Regions from separate parts of the Homo sapiens genome. Here all the other regions are reported to be linked to region 1. Evidence: microRNA targets listed by miRTarBase, many of them from high-throughput screens and not tested one by one. Region 1 holds a microRNA gene; each other region holds the end of a gene's coding sequence.
The links. The annotated mature microRNA hsa-miR-3714 reads GAAGGCAGCAGUGCUCCCCUGU and lies in region 1 at 3,533-3,554, opposite strand. An mRNA with a match to its seed (bases 2 to 7 or 8) in the 3' UTR can be bound and repressed. Matches are read on the target gene's strand: a 7mer-m8 pairs with bases 2 to 8, a 7mer-A1 pairs with bases 2 to 7 and ends in A, and an 8mer does both.

Region 2: the mRNA of ZNF496 is a reported target of hsa-miR-3714. Seed matches in the 3' UTR shown: 7mer-m8 at 1,463-1,469 and 7mer-m8 at 1,875-1,881.
Region 3: miRTarBase lists HEPHL1 as a target of hsa-miR-3714. Seed matches in the 3' UTR shown: 8mer at 2,162-2,169, 7mer-A1 at 2,481-2,487 and 7mer-m8 at 2,852-2,858.
Region 4: miRTarBase lists CCDC137 as a target of hsa-miR-3714. Seed matches in the 3' UTR shown: 7mer-m8 at 1,654-1,660.

What each region holds. Positions count from the first base shown.
Region 1 is chr3:16,931,426-16,936,749 of GRCh38, reverse strand. It overlaps MIR3714 (microRNA 3714), which reads right to left and starts at 3,554; the gene lies at 3,490-3,554. All of the region lies in intron 1 of PLCL2 (phospholipase C like 2), which reads right to left.
Region 2 is chr1:247,295,642-247,300,802 of GRCh38, reverse strand. It overlaps ZNF496 (zinc finger protein 496), which reads left to right. Exons shown (of 10, transcript NM_032752.3): 10 at 1-3,388. The coding sequence ends at 284. Among named protein-coding and RNA genes, the nearest start is that of ZNF496, 34 kb to the left of the region's middle. RefSeq lists enhancers at 82-980, 981-1,880.
Region 3 is chr11:94,111,131-94,116,291 of GRCh38, forward strand. HEPHL1 (hephaestin like 1) reads left to right here. Exons shown (of 20, transcript NM_001098672.2): 19 at 407-475; 20 at 562-3,078. The coding sequence ends at 764. Among named protein-coding and RNA genes, the nearest start is that of PANX1, 15 kb to the right of the region's middle.
Region 4 is chr17:81,672,194-81,677,354 of GRCh38, forward strand. It overlaps CCDC137 (coiled-coil domain containing 137), which reads left to right. Exons shown (of 6, transcript NM_199287.3): 6 at 302-1,706. The coding sequence ends at 511. Among named protein-coding and RNA genes, the nearest start is that of CCDC137, 8.0 kb to the left of the region's middle.

The DNA of each region.
Region 1 (5,324 bases):
TGGCTTAGCCTGCTGAAAAAAAAGTATTGACAAAGTTATATATTATTTTCATAGTTAATATCTACAGCCTTAAAAATATCTATGCACCCCAAAATTATCTCCCCAGGGAAACAACTTTTTGTTCTTTCAGGAATAAAATTACACTTAGATTTTCCAAAAATTCATGTAGAAAGATAAACTTTTAACATATGATGCCTGCTTGTTTGCTTTTTCTTTCTTTCTTTTTTTTTTAAACAATCTGGCAAAAACACAGAGAACAGACAAACCACAGAGTTTATCAAACAGATACACATGGCACTCTGGGTGGCCTGAAAGCCACCAAACTCCACCTCACTCTTGCAAACAGCACTTACTGGGAACCAGGGCTTCGATAAGGAGCCCATGGTCATGCTAATGTGGACAACACAGCCACCCTGAGCCAAGCACATATAAACAGTCCTATCGCCAGATTCCAGCTAAATTTCTCCTAAACAATTTAGGCAACTCCAGAATTTAAAAACAAAAAATTTCCATTAGGTACCTAAATTACTTGTAAAAGTTTTAGGAAATGTTTAGCTTGCTGCCAAATGATAAATGTCCAGGACTGTGGCATTTTATTTCCTAAGATTCCTTAAGTCATTTTGAGGCTTTGCTTTAATACTGTGGTCAAGGCTCTACAACCTTTGATCTTGTTCTGATGGCCTCAAGAGAATGGGTTGTCTTTGGATGTTCTGCCTAGAAAGGAACCTACCAACATACAAAGATTAGAGCCACCACGGACCTGAAAAGTCATTTTGATGTTAACTAGTGTTTCAAATAGGAAGGATAACATGAGCTATCAGTGAAATGCAGGTTGCACTACATAAACCATTGGCAATATTTTACAATCTGGATCCTGAACTTTCTCATGCACTCTGGATTTCAAACATTCTATTCTGAATGGGTGTTGGGAGCCATTCTTTCTTTTTTTATTTTTTAGCAATGGCACAGGTTCCCTGATGTTGCCCAGGTATAAGTATTAGTCCTTAAATCTTATCTCTCTATAATCTATCAACATATATAACATCAAATGTCCCAGAAATTCCAATATTATTACTCTCTAAAACTGCTTCTGCCACACAAATGCATAAAAATTATTTGTTACATAGACTAGGTTGTCCCGATTTTTGGTTCAGAAAAAAAAATTATTATTCCGATCAAAAAGAGATAGATTCCTACAACACATATCCGAAAATTCCGGATGAATTAAAGACCCGAAGGTAAAAAATGAAAATAAATGTGAATATTTATAAAAATCCCACTATTTATACCTCAACCTGGGGTTGAGGAAGAATTTTCTTCACACTGAACTACAGGCATAAAGCATGAACAAAATATTTTATTACATTAAAAAACTTTCTGATCAACAAAATATAAACAAAAGCATAAATAAATGAGAGAAATCCTGCAACAAATAGAAAAGACAAAGGGTTAAGCAACTAAAGAGTAATAGAGCTCTTAGAAATAAAAAAGACAAAGATAAACACCTCAGGGGGAAAATAAGCAAAGATATGAATATGTAATTTGTGGAAATATAATTAGTTGATAAGCATGAAAAAAACTTCAACTTTGCCAGTACTCACAGAAATGCAAATTAAAATAAAGAAAAGGTATGTATTTTCTTCCTATCAGATTGGTGTCAATTCAAAGCGATAATACTCAGTGAGGCTGAAGCTAGTGCCCTAATTGGTAATGGACAATTGGCGTATTAGCCTTTCTGGAGGCAATTTGACTACATTATTGAAATATTTCAAGATCTTTCCTTTGACTCAGCAAGTCTACTTCCAGGATTTGTCCAAAAGAAATAATGAGGATGGTTTCATAAAGATGCAAGAATAATATGTTAAATGCATTGCACATAATCTTTTTGTTAAAAGTGAACAACCAGAGGGCTGAGGGTCTCTGCCTCCATGCCCACGTCTCAAAATTGCTAACTCCTGTTGATTCCACTGTCTGAAGAGCTCTTCTGTGTCTACTTCTTCCTAGTTGCACTGCCATTTCCTAGTTCAGGCCACCATCACCTTTCACTTGGATTACTGCAACAGCTTCCTACATAGCATCCCATCCCTTTCCGGTTTACTCTCCACCTGGCAGGCAGGATGAGATTTTTAAACACAAATCAAATAACCTCCCACTCCTGATAAAGGTCTTCACTGGCCTCCCATAGCCTTATGTCCAACCTCCTTGACACTTATGGAGAGCTACGGTGATTCCAATGCCTGATTACCTTGCCAGTCTCCTCTCCAGACTGCCAACAGATACACTTCTGAAGCTCAAACGGGCCATGATGATCTCTGGGCATGCTGGTGTTCCCTCTCCTAGAACACAGTTCCTCACACTATTCTACCCTTTCCTAACCTATGTTCCTCACATTCTCCAGGGCTCAGCTTAGCAGGAACTTCCTTAGGGTCAATCTCTCCTGCTTCTCCAGCACTTGAGTGAAATGTAGCTCTTAGGCACCCACTGTCCACAGCATCCTGCACTTACCCAAAACCACAGCACTGGCCACATTATGTGGATTTAACTGTGGGTCATCAGTTTACAGGTGTCTCGGGTCACTTCTATCATTGCATGACCTTTTCAGAGAACACAAAAGCCTTTGCATGCCCAATATCTAGGGCTCCTTTCCTTATTCATACACCAAGACTTTTTTGTTCGTTTGTTTTTGAGACAGTCTCACTCTGTCGTTCAGGCTGGAGTGCAGTGGTGCAATCTGGGCTCACTGCAACCTCCGCCTCCTGGGTTCAAGCGATTCTCCTGCCTCCGCCTCCTGAGTAGCTGGGATTACAGGCACCCACCATCATGCCCGGCTAATTTCTGTATTTTTAGTAGAGACAGGTTTCACCATGTTGGCCAAGCTGGTCTCGAACTCCTGACCTCAGGTGATCTGCCCCCCTCAGCCTCCAAGAGAGCTGGGATTACAGACATGAGCCACCACACCTAAATATTCCTCAAGAAACTGGCTAAATAAATTACACATCTATACAATGGATGTGTACTTTACACATCCATCTACACAATGGATGTATACTACACAACCATAAGAAAAAAAATAAAACATTTACTTGGAAAACATCAGGAAATAGTGTAAGGTTAAAAAAAAAAGAAATAAAAATGCTGAACAATATTCTAGTATGCTGCTACAGTGTATGAAAAAGCAGGCATATGAATATATGTGCTGATTCATGAGTCAAATATCTCTCTGGAAGGACACTGGGAAGGGAAACTGAGTGGGTGAAGTCAAAATGGGGAGAAAGGACTTTCCCTGTATAATCTTTTACTGTTTGGCTTTGTTAGTATATTTCATATTTCAATGATAGCTTACTTTGGATTTTTGTTTAACTAAGTAGTCGTAAGCGTTTTAGACAAAACTCTTTAGAGGAGAAACACAAAGGCTAATCTTCCACCACTCCCAAAATGAAACAAAACAAACACCTTACAATTTCCAGTGCTCTTGAACAAGGCTGTGGAGAGGTGGCAGCGGTGTCTTCCCTGCCCGGTGATGGAGCACGTCACAGGGGAGCACTGCTGCCTTCTCTCTCGGGTCTGCTTTGCTCCTCTTTTGCAGTCCTTCACTCAAATTTCCTGAGCAGCAACCACTGTAAAATACTCCGGCTGTCCAATAATACTTAGGTACGTTTCATTTTCTTAGAGGCAATGTGAAACTATGACAGTTTCTTCTCACAAAGTGGTGCTGGAATCAACCTTAAAGGAAAAGCAAAACTACGAATTTCTACAGCCAAGAGTACTAACTACAAATTCTGCTTTTGTGTCCCATAATATTAGAAAATAAATGAATGGATGAACTAAAGAAAAGAAGAAGAAGGAAAAAAGAAAGAAAATCTTCTCCAACAGACTTCTCCTTTTCCTTTGACTTGGAACAGCCATCATGGCAAGACAGAGTGAGGCTGTTTCTTCTTAATCAGTACTGGGCTACAGAGTCCATCTACAACTAATAAGTTGTAATTCATGCCTTAGATCTGTTTTCCCTGCAGCTAAAAGATACGTTCAAGGGAGTAATATGCTCTGGATCTCCTGTATTTTCTAGCACTGATCAGCTACCGTGCATTATCTACCAGCATATGGCTGTAGAGAGAAGGACCTCTCCAAAAAGAGAACTGCAATGGAGAGAGAGAAAATTCAGCAGAAATCCCAAACAAAATATGGTAATTATGAAACATCTTACTTCTTGTCTTATTACCAAGATGAAAATAAATACCTCCAAACAAAACTGCTAAATTTAACTACCAAGATTTTTAAAAGTACACCCTGAATTCAATATTATCTAAGACATGGAAGAGGACTAATGGTACTCCAAAATGCTTAAGTGAGAAGAAAAAAATTCAATCTAATTGTCTTAGGAAAACATCAGATGAAATAATATGCATGTTATTCCCAAACAAAGGATGTTACTAACCTGAAATAAAGATAGATATTGAAAAGTTAGTCCTTGAGACAATGCGTATGCTAACAGCTGATACTACCTAAACCACATAGCAGAATGGTTTTCAAATCCAGGCCTAAGAAATACATATAAATTCAGATTCAACTAAAAATTAAGAGCTATCCTAATTCTGGCAGCCATAACGAATTACCATAGACTGGTAGCTTAAAACAACATAAATTTGTTTCTCACAGTTCTGAAGGCTGGAAGTGTGAGATCAGGGTGCCAGTGTGGTCGGGTTCTGGTGAGGGCCCTCTCCAGGCTGCAGATGGCCACCTTTTCCTTATATCTTCACATGGCAGAAAGACAGTGAGCTAGCTCTCTGGCCTCTTCTTATAAGGGCACTAATCCCATTCATGAGGGCTCCTCCTTCATGACCTAATTATCTCAAATCATCACACTGGGGATTGTATCTCAATGTATGAATTTTGCAGGGATACAAACATGCAATCATAAGTTTATTCTATGTCAGAACTTAGTGTCTTACCTATACAAGATGCTTTCATATCCAACATCTCATCAAGTTCTTAAAATAACCTTGTCAGGGAGGTGTTATTCTCATTGCAAGGGAGAAAACTGAACCTTAAAAAAAGAGACTTGCCTGGGGTCATTCACGTAATAAATGGCAGCAACCGAACTGGAACCTGGACCCTCAGACTCTAAGACCAATGCATGTTCTCTATAAATAATATTTGTGAGGTTTTCTTTTCTATCCCTTAAAGGCAACAGTTGTTAGTTAAACTTCATTTAGACAGAACATTGACAATGCAACCAGGTTATTCTGTCTGCTGATAAAGAAAGTCTCTATTTAAATTGTTTTTATAGGAACAGAACATTTACGTGCTTTTTTTCTAAGGGAGAG
Region 2 (5,161 bases), not on the chromosome of region 1:
TGGAGAAGAGAGAGCAGGCGGCATCCGAGGACGCGGACAAGGGTCCCAAAGAGCCGCTGGAAAACGGCAAGGCCAAACTGAGCTTCCAGTGCTGTGAGTGTGGGAAGGCCTTCCAGCGGCACGACCACCTGGCTCGGCACCGCAGCCACTTTCACCTGAAGGACAAAGCCCGGCCCTTCCAGTGCCGGTACTGCGTCAAGAGCTTCACGCAGAACTATGACCTCCTCCGCCACGAGCGCCTGCACATGAAGCGCCGTTCCAAGCAGGCTCTGAACTCCTACTGAGCCTCTCCGCCTGGGGCGGCCTCACCCTGGCTGGTGCTGCCCCCTCACCTTGGTACTGATCAGCGCCCCCACCCAGGACATACCTTCCCCAGGATAGAGAGCACACCTCCCTCCTGTCCTTGCTCTCAGGTAGTGAGCGTTCGGGTGGTGCCATGGGAGCACTCTCCCTCCCCCAGGTAATGAAAGAGTGGCCAAGTGAGTGTTCTGTTTCTGCTGTGCCAAAAAACGGGGGGGATGTGCCATCACCAGGTTGGACATGCCAGGTGTTCTGCGTCTTAGAGACCCTTGGCCCATGCTCCCCAAGCTCGGGGAGTAAAACTGGGCTATCCCCCGTCAGGGCGGCACCCTGGTCACCAGCCAAACCTCAGTATACTCCCTCCCCTCCTTCCCTGTCTGAACGCTAGGATCTGCTCCTGAAGCTCCAGGATGCCTGCACTTCCACTGAGAAGCTGCTGGCGGATGTTGGACTAGAGGAAAGAAGAAGGCAGGGTGGGACTGATGGGCTCAGTGGGGAGCAGGGCCAGGCACACTGAGCCAGACATGTCATGTCTGAGCCCCAGATTCGTGGCCATCAGGTAGGCAGGAGCACCCCGCAGATCCAAGATGATCAGGCAGCCCTTTTGGGCTGGCCTCTGTGGCAGGGGTCTGCAGAGCTCCTTCTTGAGGTTTGGAAACAGTCGTCATACCTGTTGATTTTCCTGGGGGCCAATCACTAGGGATCTGGAGCTCACCAAAAACAAAGCTTACATTTTAATTTGTGTTGCACACCTACCCCATAATGTCTTTATACCCCAAAGATCCTTGGTAAATGCTTGTGGGTTGGAAGCGGAGTTGTCATCGTTTAAAAGGCACTTAAGTCCCTTCTTCCAATCTGTCCTGTCTAGGAATGTGGAGCTCTGCCCCCAGTGAGGGGTTCTCCTGTCTGGGTGAGCCAAGCTCCAGAACAGAACCTTGCCTGACAACACACTTGATAGATACATTAGCTTGGAGTGCTGGTGTGTCCAAACACTGGCTGGCTTAGAACAACAGGAGTGTATTCCCTGACAGTTCTGGGAGGTGCACGTCCAAGATCAGGGTGTCCTCAGAGTTGGTGCCTTCCGAGAGCTGTGAGGGAGAAGCGGCTTCATGCCTTTGCTGGCAGTTGCCATTCCTTGGTGTGTGGAAGCGTCACCCAGTCTCTGCCTTCATCTCCACATGGCACTCTTGCTGTGTGCGTGTCTGTCTCCAAACCTCCCTTTGTTTAAGGACACCAGTCATATCGGATTAGAGCCCATCCCACCGACTCCAGTATAACCTCATCTGTATCCGCAGCAACCGTTTACCAATAAGGTCACATTCTGAGGTACTAGAGGTTGGGACTTCAACATCGGAATTTGAAAGGGACAGCATTCAGCCCATGACTCCAGATAAACGTGAGGTATGCTATATCATTCCTAATTTACAGATGAGTCAATACAAACTTGAGTGAGCTTGCTCACAATTCCATCAAAGGCAGGGTTCAGACCCAAGTTTCAGCATTTAGGGCAGGTGTCCTCTGCATGGAAGAATCATACTCAATAGCCGTAAACGCTGACAAATTCCCCTTCCTCCCTGCCTTCTGATGGGGGCTGGGCAGGCCAGCTGGAGCTGTGTCTCCTGCTGGGATTCCGGACTGAGAGTGACAGCAGGTAGTGAAACCTCAAGCAATTTAAAACATGGTATTGTTCCTGGAAGACTGGTTATGTTGGCTAGGGTCAGCAAGAGAGGGCATCAAGGCTGTAGTCTAGCAGTGATTTAATCTGCAAGTCAAACCAGACGGGTATTTTGTATTATTCATATGTCACATCCTACCAACAGACAGTAAGTCAGGCAAGGCTCCTGGTGCTCCTTGTCACTCACGTAATTTTCACATCAGGAAAACTCTGGGCTGGGTGCAGTGGCTCACACCTGTAATCCTAGCACTTTGGGAAACCAAGGTGGGTGGATTGCCTAGCTCAGTGACACCAGCCTGGGCCACATGGCAAAACCCCGTCTGTACCAAAAATGCAAAAAATTAGCTGGGTGTGGTGTTGACGTTTGCGGTCCCAGCTACTCTGGAGGCTGAGGTGGGAGGATTGCTTGAGTCTGGGAGGCAGAAGTTGCAGTAAGCCGAGATCATGCCACTGCACAAGCTAGGTGACAGAATGAGACTCTGTCTCAAAAATAATTAAAAAGCCTCTGCCCCAAACTCGTTAAAAGATTTTATAACCACAACTGCTGTTTCTGTGTAGATGCATCTGCATGCCCAGGAGCAGTAAATGCAATAAAATCATTTGGTTATACTTTGAACACAAAATAAACGGTTGAGGCTTTTACTTTCTAAATAGTTTGTCTCTTGTATCAACATAGCTGGAAAAGGGAGAAATCCGATTTTTAAGGCCAAGGGAGGGGAAAATTCCAAGTAGAAGCCAGGCTCTCTGTACACGTTTACCCCACCTACCTGTGTGCTCCTACCTGTGCTGAGGATTCTCTCTGTAGCTCTAAGGTCTTGGGAAGGTTATTCACCTTCCTGCTTCAGACGTCTGACTCAAGAGAAGAACACTGTTCTACTTACCAGAGTGTTTTTCTGTGTAAAACCACATCATGAAGGAGAAAGCGACAAAGGGAATGTGAGGGGCTGGAAGCCACAGGGAGGCTGTCTCTTGAGTCCCCACCACTGATCCAGAGCCAACCAAGGCACCTCAGGAAATGGAAGGCCACATTGCCTCTGGATTTGGAAATCCTCCTGGGTAATGTAACTGAAACCCAGGTTGATGCCATGCAGCAGGAGCAGCAGGGGGAACGTGCTCTCAGGAGAGGTCGGCCAACCCTCCAGCCCAACACCCTTCACCACAGTGGTGGAGGAGGCTGCACCCAGGAGATCTTTGTCTCCCTTTTGGCCACTGATACCTTTGGCCTTATCTGACAACAGCTACCCCTCGATCCTTCCCTCCCACCCCAGGGGCTGGGCAGCTGGCTGGAGCTTTGTGTCCACCTTGCTCTGGAGGTTGAGACCCCCATCTGAGCAACATCCTCTCTCTTTGTTCCTCTGATCCCTTGGCATCGTCACAAACCCACAGGTGCATAATAAAAACTTGCTGAGTCAATATTCCTGTTAGGCTTTTCATTTTCATTTAAAAAGTAAAATGTGGCTGGGCGTGGCAGCTCATTCCTGTAATCCCAGCACTTTGGGAGGCCGAGGCAGAAGGATTGCTTGAGGTCAGGAGTTTGAGACCAGCCTGAGCAATATAGTGAGACCCCATCTCTAAGAAAAAAATAGAACAATTAGCCTGCCATGGTGGCACATGCCTGTAGCTATTTTGGGGGCTGAGGTGGGGGAAGATCCCTTGAACCCAGGAGACAGAGGTTGCTGTGAACGGTGGAGGTTGCTATGAACGGTGGAGCGCCACTGCACTCCAGCCTGGGTGACAGAGCAAGACTTCATCTCAAAAAACAAAAAGTAAAATGTGAAGCACAGCCAAAACATGTTTTCTAAGACCTGCAGGCTTTAGATAGTTCTGGTCACCTGATCTGGCCCCTCCCCAAAAGAAAGAAGAAGAAATAACTGTTTCATACGCTGGGAGTAGATTGTACTCCTGGTCACACCACAGCTTTAAGCCAACCTTAGTCGTTTTTCTCTTTTCTCTATCTCCCCAACTCTTGCCTCAGCTAGAAGAAGAAACAAATAAAAAAAGATGAGGCCATTGGTGGGAGGGTCCCTATCAGTCCTAAATCATACTGTGGCACAAAGGAAAGAGAAGGCCAGCTTTGAAGCCTGTGGAGATCTTGTCCAAGTCACTCTTCTCCTGTGAGATGGTTTCCCTTCCTCTGCCAAAAGCAGAGTTTGGATCAGATAGAAGTAATTCTGCTTGCAGAGTTACGTAGACGATTCAGCGATGATTATAGCACTTCAGCAATTCCATCAAATAAGCCCACTTTTTTTTCACCCCCCTAAAGACGGGCTCTCACTATTTTGCCCATGCTGGTCTCAGACTCCTGAGCTTCTCCCACCATGGCCTCCCAAAGTGCTGGGATTATAAGTCTGAGCCACCACACCCAGCCTCCAGACACACTTAGTATTAGCAACAAACACTGATACTGTTTGGTCTTGAAAGTGACGGTCAGTGCCCACTACTAGTCCATGCAACAAGGCTAGAGGTTAGAAAACTTGCTTAGGGCAGACTGGCCACAGGAAAGGGACTGTTGAAGGGACCACTGGAAGACCAGGTACCTCTAGCAGCCCAGACCCATGTATAGGGCAGCTGATAGAGTGCCAGTGGCCCAGCATCTGGGGGGTGGTTAGTAGTGATCATGAGCTCAACAGGGGCAAAGCCCAGGGGGTCCATCTGTACCTGTTTTGCCCATCAGATACCAATTGGGAACTTTATCTTCTCTTGAAACCATAGCCTGTAACCAGGTCACCATGATTAATGTGCATATAATTAGCAAAGTACAGAGAAGCCATAGAAATTCCCTGTGAGAAGATGCAAAACTCAGTGTGGGAAAGCAGAGTCCTCAGGAATACACGGAAGTGGGAGGAACCCGGGGCTTACCTCACACATCTTGGCCATAGCCGGGAATATCACAGGCAGGCCGACAACTGTGTGACAAAGGGCTGTCTTCTAATCACACAACCAAATGGCAGGAGAACCACCCTTTCTCCATCACCTGCTTTAAAAAAAAAAATACTATGGTTGTGTCTGTCCTGCCCCATTATATTAGTCTTGCTACACCTTGTCAAAATACGAAGAGGTTGGATACTTGCTATTTTCTACCTTTTTACGTGATGATCAGTCAGGCATAGCCACAAGAGAAGACAGAGGAGAGTCTCAGGAAAAGACGAAGTTTATTCTACTCACAGGTCCTAGAGACAGGAGGCA
Region 3 (5,161 bases), not on the chromosome of region 1:
GGCATGACAAAAACCCAGATATAGCCCTCAACAAGCTCAGAGTCAAGTAAGAGAGACATATATGTAAATATGTAACTATAATCAAGTATGCTATGTGCCGTAGCAGAATGCAGAGTACAGGGCTTAATAGCAGCAGTAGGAGTGAATGGGTAACAGTTGGAGGATATGAGCCAAAGTTTCACAGAGGCCATGATGCTCCAGATAGACTCAGTGGGTGAGCAGAAGTGGGAAAGACAGCTGGGGCAGGAAAGCATGTACATGGGAATGAAGTAGCACAGTAAGAATCCAGAAATGATTGGCAGATACTGATGGGATAAGTCCTCGCTGGTGAAATGAAATGACTAGTGTCATGAAAAGAATCCCCTTCTGTTGTTAATAAAACAATGAACTTGTTTTCTTTGTGCAGACAACAGGATTCCTTACTCCACCACATCTCCTGGAGTGGCATCTCACCCAGCCACGGTGCCATCTAACGGTAATGATACCCTCTCCCCATGTAAATGAGTCAACATTTCACCCCTCAAAAATGTCAGGGGCCTGACAAGTTTATCTTTTTCACAGAACGACCTGGCAAAGAGCAGCTCTATTTCTTTGGCAAGAATCTGGGTCCAACAGGAGCCAAGGCAGCCTTGGTCATCCTTTTCATCATTGGACTCCTCCTTCTAATCACCACGGTGATTCTCTCCCTCAGACTCTGCTCTGCAATGAAGCAGACAGATTACCAGCAAGTCCAGTCCTGTGCTCTCCCCACGGATGCTCTGTGAACCATCTGGTCTCCCTCAACAGGAAAGGGTGATGTCCCACAGCTGGCCAGATGGCAGCCAACAGGGAAACTGGACCAAGGCATCACTCACCAAGGAAGGTTGACACTGTATCCTGGATCAGCCTTCTGATCCTCTCAAACATCATCCAAAGCAATTTGCTTTTATTTATTTATTTTTAAATGGGCTGCGAATAATCCTCAGGTATAAAACACAGAAAAAGGAGAATGGGCATGGCTGAGAATGTCAACTCTTAGTCTATTCTTTGGTTGGATTCACTGAATAGGAGACACTCTGAAAGATATCTTTATATTCCATCTTTTATAATTCTTGAACAGTGCTTTCTTAGCTAACCACCAAAGTTTCTAGGTGAACAGCTTCTAGAAAAAGTTAGAGTGCCTCAGACATTTAACTGGAAGGGCACTACTTTTTCAACATTGTTGCATAACATGCATCCCTTGGTTCTGTGGAAAATATCTTTCTTAGGAGTTCTTGGCAATGTCTAAGTCAGTGTCTGCTGATAGAATTAGACCAAATAAATTTTTTGGAGGCTTTAACCAGCTCTCCTGGCCTTTTCCTCTTTGATATAAATAGCCTGTGCAGTGCTTGTTTTAAAAAGCAAAGTTATACGTTTTTTAAAAAATTGCTGCTGTTTTTATTCAAACCTGTAGAAATACTTGAATGTTTACAACTCACTTCATGTTACATGTTTTTACAATATGTTTCTGTGGCAATGTTTGTACTTTCAAAAATCAAGTAGAGAAATTGTATTTCTACTGCAGACTGTGGGAGGGCTGAAATCTGTAAAAGAACATGTTAGGCTCTCCCTTTATGAATCAGGGACTCCCTGAGAGTTTAGAGCAAGCTTTCTATCAGGGAGGGAAGCTTTGCAGGAGGCAAGTCTGGGCTTGAATTTGGAGTCTGATTTTTCATTCAGTTAGAGGGAATCTTTACAAGTCCTCATCTTCTATGAAATTATAACATTCTCATTGTATGAGAAACATCAGGAGGAATTTATCAATGTAGGTGACTAGATAGGAGAAGGGACCTCTAAATATCCTAGATTCTATGGCTTTTAAAGACATACCTCTTCATGGAAGGAGAAAAAAGGAAAAGGAAAGGTGAGAAAAAGATAATCTTGGTGGCAGATTCTCTTAAACCATTAAACCAGCTTTGAAAATTAATAAATAATTTCCAAGGTTCAAATGCAAAAAAATTATTGAACAACTAAACTCAACCCATTATGAGGCAATCTACACTGTCCATACCTATGCTTAGACAGTAGGTGTAAGATTGATAAAAGTAACATTGTTTATTACAAGACTGAGAAATTGCTTTTAGCTCTGGGCGAGATGCCCTGAGATTCCAATGCCAATGCTAGATGAGTGATACTGGTATGCCTGCCTTAGCAGTGGGTAATTTGAATGTCAAAGTGAGTGACAAGGACCTAAGAAATATTCTGGTGGAGGGACCTTTCACACTGTCTCATCTTCATCTTCATGAGGGGAAATGGGTAATTGGATAGAAGCTATAGTCTTAACATAAAAGGGGATGCAAATGCTAATAGTTCTGTTCATAGTTTGCTTGAATGTCATATCAAACAGCATACACAAAAGATTTTGAATTTCAATCTGCTAACCATTGACAATGTGATTTCATAGTACATGTTCTACAGTTTTCATACATGTGTAGGCTGCATAATTTCATAATTATGGTAAATGCCTTATTTATTACCCACCTTAGTAAGACAAGTTGTTCAGTTGTTTTTTTTTCTTTTCAGTTTATTTTTTTAATGAAAACAAAACCACAAAGTAGTTTGATTGCATCATTTATCATTTTAATAAAGTGTCACATAAGGTGGCTATTTGCATGGTTATTTTCACTTAAAATTATCTATCACTGAACTAGGGGAGGTGGTTAAAGTGGAATTAATTTTTAGATATTTAGGGGCTATGACTATGCCAATGACACTTGTTAGAGGAAATGAAACAAAATAGTGTATCTCCACAAATAATATGACTTCTCAAACATTGTTTCCTCAAACATAACTACACTCCTTGTTCTCAGCCTCACTCTTGAGAAAATCAACTCTGCCTTCACTTACACACATATTTCTTCCTATTACAATACACGTGTCCCTGCTCCTAGCAGGACAGTCTCTTCATTTGACTTTGGGTCTCATTGCTTCTTGCTTTCTCAAGACTTCATTCCCTTGGGTATCCATTTTTCCTCCTGCATCTTTCTATGAAACCATCAGCAATGTCCGCCATTAAAAACAGAAAGCAATGTGCTGTCTTATTTAACTCTATAACCCCCTCCGACACAGTTTCTCTCTTCCTTTGATAGCAGAACATAGAGGTATTCACACTTGGTGCCTGTACTACCTCACCCCATGCATTCCTCAGCCCATTCTGATGGCTTTCAATCCAGCGTGCCCAGCCCCCACACCCCAATCTGCTGTGGTAGAGATCACCAATCATGATGCCATTTCCAGTGGCTTCTTCTCCATCTTTATCTTACTCAACCTCTCAGCAACAAGAAACAGCTCCTTCCTTCTGAACACTCGGAGTCTCTAGTCCCTTGGCTCTGCAACATGACTCTCTGCCAGCCTTCCTTCTTCCTCAATGACTATTCCTTCTCAATCTCTTTTTCTAGTTCCTTCTCTTCTGTCTGACCTAAATGTTAGCATGCCTCAGAACTTGACACTGGGTCCTTTTTCGCTTTTTACCCTCTGTGGTAGGCTGAATATTGCCCCAAAGATGTCATGTCCTAATCCCTGAACCTGTGAATGTCACCCTATGTGGCAAAAGGGACTTTGCAGGTATGATTAAGGATCTTGAAGATAGGAAATTTATACTGGATTATCCATAATGGCCCTATATGTAATCATGAGTGTCCTTATGAAAGAGAGGCAGTGGGAGATTTGGCTACAGAAGAAGGCAATATGACAACCAAGACAAGATGCCATGCTGCTGGCTTTGGAGATGGAGGAAAGGGCCATGGGCCAGGGAATGCAAGGAATGCATCTCCAGAAGCTGGGAAAGGTAAGGGAAAGGATTTTCCTCTAGAGCCTCCAGAGAGAGGTTGGCCTTGCAGATATCTTGAAACTGATTTTGGACTTCAGAGGTCCAGAACTGTAAGAGAAGAAATGTGTGCCAACAAGTTTGTGGTAATGTGTTACCAGCCACTCCATAGTTTATTTTATCCATCCTTATGATCGGAAAACCATTTTTATGCAAACAAATTCAAAATGTATTTCTCTAACCCTGACCTTGGGCTGCAGATTCACACAAATCCTGCTTGAGTAGGGCCACTGCAGCAGTCCCCAAACCAGCCTCTCCATCATCACTACTGCTCCTTTCCACCACTGTCCACACATTGCCTCACGTTTTTCCAAATTTCATCACTTTCCTGGTTACTACCCTTTACTGTCTTCCCATTTCACTTTTAATAACATCCAAACTCTTTACCTTGGTCTTTAAGACCCAGCTTGACTTGGCCCATGCCCACTCCTCCAACTTCTTGAACTCTGCTCCAGCTTTCATCCGCTCCTATACTCTGCTAGTTCTTTCTTGCCTCAGGGCCTTTGCACATGCTGCTTTCTATGCCTGGAATGCTCTCCCTCCCTAGCTTCCTCATTCCCTCTCTGTATTAGTCGGGGTTCTCTTAGAGGGACAGAACATATATATATATATATATATATATATATATATATATATATATATATATATATGTAAGAGGATAATAATACCGGTCTTGTGCTTTAAGATGATTAATCTGCCAGTCATGTGTAGAATAGATCATTTTATATATATATATATAATATATAATGATATATAAACTCATTTTATATGTATATAATGATATAAAAACTCATTTTATATATATATATAAGTTCATTAAGTATTAACTTACATGATCACAGGGTCCCACAATAGGCTATCTGCAAGCTGAGGAGAAAGGAGAGCCAGTCCAAGTCCCAAATCTGGAGAACTTGGAATCTGATGTTCGAGGGCAGGGAGCATCCAGCATGGGAGAAAGATGTACGCTGAGAGGCTAAGCCCATCTCTCCCTCTCACATTTTTCTGCCTGCTTTATATTCACTGGCAGCTGATTAAATTGTGACCAATGGATTACGGGTGGATCTGCCTTCCCCAGCCCACTGACTCAAATGTTAATCTCTTTTGGCAACACCCACACAGACACACCCAGGATTAATACTTTGTAGCCCTCAATCCAATCAAGTTGACACTCAGTATTCAATATCATATTCTCCTAGCTTTTCTAGTTCACATGTGGGTTCCCCTGACTTCCCTCTCTAAAGTGGGTCCTTCCCTCTGTTATTTACTATCTTCACTGTTTTCCTTTGCAGCACTTATTACAGGACATAATCATTTTAT
Region 4 (5,161 bases), not on the chromosome of region 1:
GTGCTGCCAGGGAACAGAAGCCTTGGACAGGCTGGACACGGTGGGTCACACCTGTAATCCCAGCACATTGGGAGGCCAAGGCAGGCGGATTGCTTGAGCCCAGGAGTTGATACCAGCCTGGACAACATAGCGAGATCCTGTGTCAAGAAAAAAAAAAACCCTCAGCCAACGTGTGCGCTGTCTGGTGTGTGGCCTGAGAGTGCAGTGTTCTCGCTGGCGGGAGAGCTGTTGAAGCTGTGAGGCTTTCTGTTGCATCCCCTCCTTTCCCAGCCTGTGCCTCACCCTCCCCTCTCTCCCTCAGCCTGGCAGGAGATCGCAGATGCTGCGGATGCTTCTGAGCCCCGGTGGTGTGTCCCAGCCTCTGACCGCCTCCCTGGCCCGCCAGCGGATTGTGGAGGAGGAGAGAGAGCGGGCCGTGCAGGCCTACAGAGCGTTGAAGCAGCGGCAGCAGCAGCTGCACGGGGAGCGACCCCACCTCACTTCCCGGAAGAAGCCAGAGCCGCAGCTGTGATGGAGAGACACCCGGGGCCTGGCCACGCTCTGGGGCAACTGGCACCAGGAGCTGCTACACCTGGGTAGGAGAGAGGCAGGCCATGCCAGCAGTGTGGGGTGAGGCCTCCAGCTACTTGTTCACACGTTGGGCACTAGTGGGTCCACATCTTGCAGGGGGTGAGTGCCCGATGGACTAGGGCCAAGGCCTGGTTGACAGACGGCCCGTGGGGCCCGGTGTCACTCACAGCTCCATCTCTTTGTTTTGAACGTCCATTCTGAGTCTCAGCCCAGGTGGACCTTAGGAAGGGCTGGATCCCTGTCCCTGAACACCAAATACCGAGACAGCTGATGAGGCTGGCTCAGTGTGTGACGGAGGCCCCCGGGAGTCAGCAGAGCCGAGCGTACAGTGCACATCAGGCAGAGCAGGCCACGGGCAGGGACGACGCATCGGGACAGGGCTCTGCAGGGGACCGTGACTACAGGCCAGCTGTGAGTGGTCCCCTACAGAGGCTGCCCACCCAAGGTTTGGTTGGGGTGAAACATGATGACAACACATACACTTAAGAAGGTGGGAACCGGGGGCCGGGCGCGGTGGCTCACACCTGTAATGCCAGCACTTTGGGCAGCTGAGGCGAGTGGATCACCTGAGGTCAGGAGTTCGAACCAGCCTGGCCAACATGGTGAAACTGCATCTCTACTAAAAATACACGAAGAAAAAAAAAACAGTGGGAACAGAGTTGTCACCTACCTAACAGGGCTCTGAGAGAGCCGGGAGGCCCAAAGTGGCTGGAAGAAGGTAAAGGAAAAATCCTGTCTTGGGCTCAAGGTCACAGAGTGGGGCCCAGGGGGAGTTCCTGCTGAGGGCAGGGCCTTGCCAGGCTTCAGTCTCCAGTGCCAAAGGAGGAAATGCCCAGGCTGTCAGCATTTCCAGATGAGAGCAGAAGGGAGAAGCTTAAACCCAAGTCACACATCCAGCAATGGAGTCCGACAGCCCAGCACCATCTGGGAACTGAGAAGCACCTCTGCCCGGCCCCCACACCGTGTGGAAAGTGAGGAGCACCTCTGCCTGGCCGCCACCCCGTCTGGCAAGTGAGGAGCGCCTCTGCCCGGCCGCTGTGCAACCTTCCAAGTGTGAAGTGACAGCCTTGTGTGTGATGTTTTCTGCCTTCCCCAAGTTTGCACTTTCGACATTAAAGTTTACTTTTTAGTTAAAAGTTTTAAATTGGAGAATATATATTTAAAGTCAGGGCTGTTTTCCTCTTATGGGCATGTTTCCCACCTTGTGATGGACCTGGCGGCCCCAGCCCTCGCGTTGGGATGTTGTTTTTGCAGCAGCCAGAACTCAGCCCCAGATCACAAGCAGCAGCTGGAAGGGGGTGGCCTTTCCCTGGGAAAGGGCTGGGACGGCAGCGGGTGGCACTCCCACTCGCTCAATGCCTTTGGTTTTGGGTGTCAGATCGGCCCGTGTATGGCTAAGCAAAGGGATCCCACAGGGCTGGGAAAGCGCTCATGCTCTCCACTGCATCCATGATTCTCAGGTTTTAGCTGCTGGAAGGGAAACCCCTGGTGGTTTTTAGGGCCTCTTTGTTGCCCAGGCTGGGGTGCAGTGGCATAAGCACACTGCAGCAAGTTGTTGGGCTCAGGCAATCCTCCCACCTCAGCCTCCCAAGTACTTGGGACAACAGGTGCTCACCAACACACCCAAATAATTTTTTGTGCTTTTTGTATAGATGGGGTTTCGCCACGTTGCGCAGGCTGGTGTCGAACTTATGGACTCAAGGGATCCGCCTGCTTTGGCCTCCCAAAGTGCTGGGGTTACAGGCGTGAGCCACTGTACTTGGCATTTTTTTTTTTTTTCTGAGGCAGGGTCTTGCTGTCACCTTGGCAGGAGTGCAGTGGCACGCTGGTCTCCAAGTCTTGGGCTCAAGATTAGCCTGCCTTGGCTTCCCTCAGTGCTGGGGTTCCAGGAGAGACCAGCTCACCCCTCCTACTTTTTTTTTTTTTGAGATGGAGTTTTGCTTTCGTTGCCCAGGCTGGAGTGCAATGGCACAATCTTGGCTCACCACAACCTCTGCCTCCCAGGTTCAAGCGATTCTCCTGTCTCAGCCTCCCAAGTAGCTGGGATTACAGGCATGCACTACCATGCCTGGCTAATTTGGTATTTTTTAGTAGACACGGGGTTTCTCCATGTTGGTCAGGCTGGTCTCAAACTCTTGACCTCAGGTGAGCCGCCCGCCTCTGCCTCCCAAAGTGCCGTCCTGCTTTTCTTACTTATCCTTTACTTCTGGAATCTTCAGGAGGAGGTGATGTGGGCATGTCAGGGTCAATGTTTAAGAGGCGAAGGCCATGGATGGACCTCCCTGGGCCTTCCGCTCTCCATGGGGCAGTGCTGTTCTCTCCATATAAAGGGAAAACTGAATTTGCACAAAATCGGGGTGCTGACAAAACCAGTGATCCCAGATGGGTCACCTACTTGTACACACAGGTCTCGCAGCACCCTAGTTGTCAACTTTCCTACAAAGAATTTTCCCAGACTAGCCAGATTTTCTCCCAGCCAACCTATCACACATTTATTGATGTGATTTTTTTTGAAGAAAAAAATTAATGTTATAATTTCACATACCGTATAATGCTATCCTTTGATTAGCGTTTAGTTTGATGGGAACTCCAAACTGTTAAAGAAAATTCAGGCCAGCTGTGGTGGCACCATGCCTGTGGTCCCAGCTACTCGGGACGCTGAAATGGGAGGTTCACTCAAACCTGAGAGGTCAAGGCCGCCCCACCGTCTGGGAAGTGAGGAGTACCTCTGCCTGGCCGCTGCACCGTCTGGGCCTGTGAGCTGTGATTGTGCCTCTGCACTCCAGCCTGGGCTGTAACAGAGCAAGACCCCCATCTCTAAAACAGAAAAGAAAAAAAATTCCTATCCAGGTGCTACATCTGCGCTGAGAAGAGTCCACGAGCAGAGACGACTCTGAGAACAGTGGTGTCCTCAGCAGCATCAATTTCCCCAGACTCAGGAGAGAATTGGGCTCTGGCATGTGCACTGAGGGGGGTCCAGCATGCCTGGCCCCATGTGGGCGGCAAGCCACCCGGGTGCCAAGGCAAGAGACTGAGGACACGAGCTGTTCCAGTATAATAAAATATAAGAATAGTTATACCAGACATAGATCTTAGATATGATTATATATGAATCATGAATCATTAGTTTATAGCAATTACTCTTTATTCCAATATTATAATAATCCTCGCTCTATAATCATAACCTAGGAAAAGCTAGGCCATACAGAGATAGGAGCTGAGGGGACATAGTGAGTGAGGTGTGACCAGAAGACAAGAGTGCGAGCCTTCTGTTATGCCCAGACAGGGCCACCAGAGGGCTCCTTGGTCTAGCGGTAACGCCAGCATCTGGGAAGACGCCTGTTGACAAGCGGACCGTGGTCTAGCGGTAGCGTTAGTGTCAAGGAAAAACACCCGCTACTTAGCGGACCGGGAAAGAGTCTCCCTTTCCCCAGGGGAGTTTAGAGAAGACTCTACTCCTCCACCTCCTGTGGAGGGCCTGACATCAGTCAGGCTCGCCCGCAGTTATCCGGAGGCCTAACCGTCTCCCTGTGATGCTGTGCTTCAGTGGTCACGCTCCTAGTCCGCCTTCACGTTCCATCCTGTACACCTGGCTCTGCCGTTTAGTTAGCAGTAGCAAATTAGTGAAAGTACTAAAAGTCTCTGATAAGCAGAAATAATAATGTAAGCTGTTTCTCTCCTTCTCCTCTCTCTCTCTCTGCCTTGGCTGCCAGGCAGGGAAGGGCCCCCTGTCCAGTGGACACGTGACCCACGTGACCTTACCTATCATTGGAGACGGCTCACATTCCTTACACTGCCCCTTTGTCTTGTATCCAATAATATCAGTGCAGCCTGGCATTCGGGGCCGCTACCGGTCTCCACAACTTGGTGGTAGTGGTCCCCCAGGCCCAGCTGTCTTTCATCTCTGTCTTGTGTCTCTATTTCTACACTCTCTCATCTCTGCACATGGGGAGAGACCCACCGACCCTGTGGGGCTGGTCCCTACACCCCAGAACAGCCGCTGAGTGCAGGGACCCTAAGGTTGGGTGGGGGTCTGGGTGACAAGGCCAGGGGAGTCCCCAGCACCCCTCACCCACCCTGCAGGACACCCCAATTGACACTGTGTGCCAGCGAAGTGGGGACCTGATGGTTTTGAGAACGTGGGTTATTGAAAGTGGCCTGCAGCACACGGCCTGTCAGGAGCAGGCAAGGAGGGTCCTTATCCACCCACCCCGAGACCGTCCTCCCGTGGCACCATGCCACGCCTGCATAGGGCTCCCTGGCTGGAACCCACCCTTGAAAACCGCCTGAGGAGGTGCCAGAGTGTGGCTGCCAGCTCCAGACCACGTCGGCTCCACCTGCCTGGAACCCAGCTGCCACCAGCGCTGGCTGGGAACACAGGCTTGCTGTTTTCTCCGGGTATTGGGAAACGCGTACTCTTAGGACTCATTCAGGATCAGCATGTCCAGCCCAAGGATTGCTTCAGGAAAGGCACTCCCTCCCAACTAAAGGAACGTTCCGCCAAGCAAGCTGACAAGCGCGGCCCACCCACCTCCAGCCGGGTGGCCACAGGCACCTCAGGCTCCTACCTCCTTATATTTTCATGCCTCAC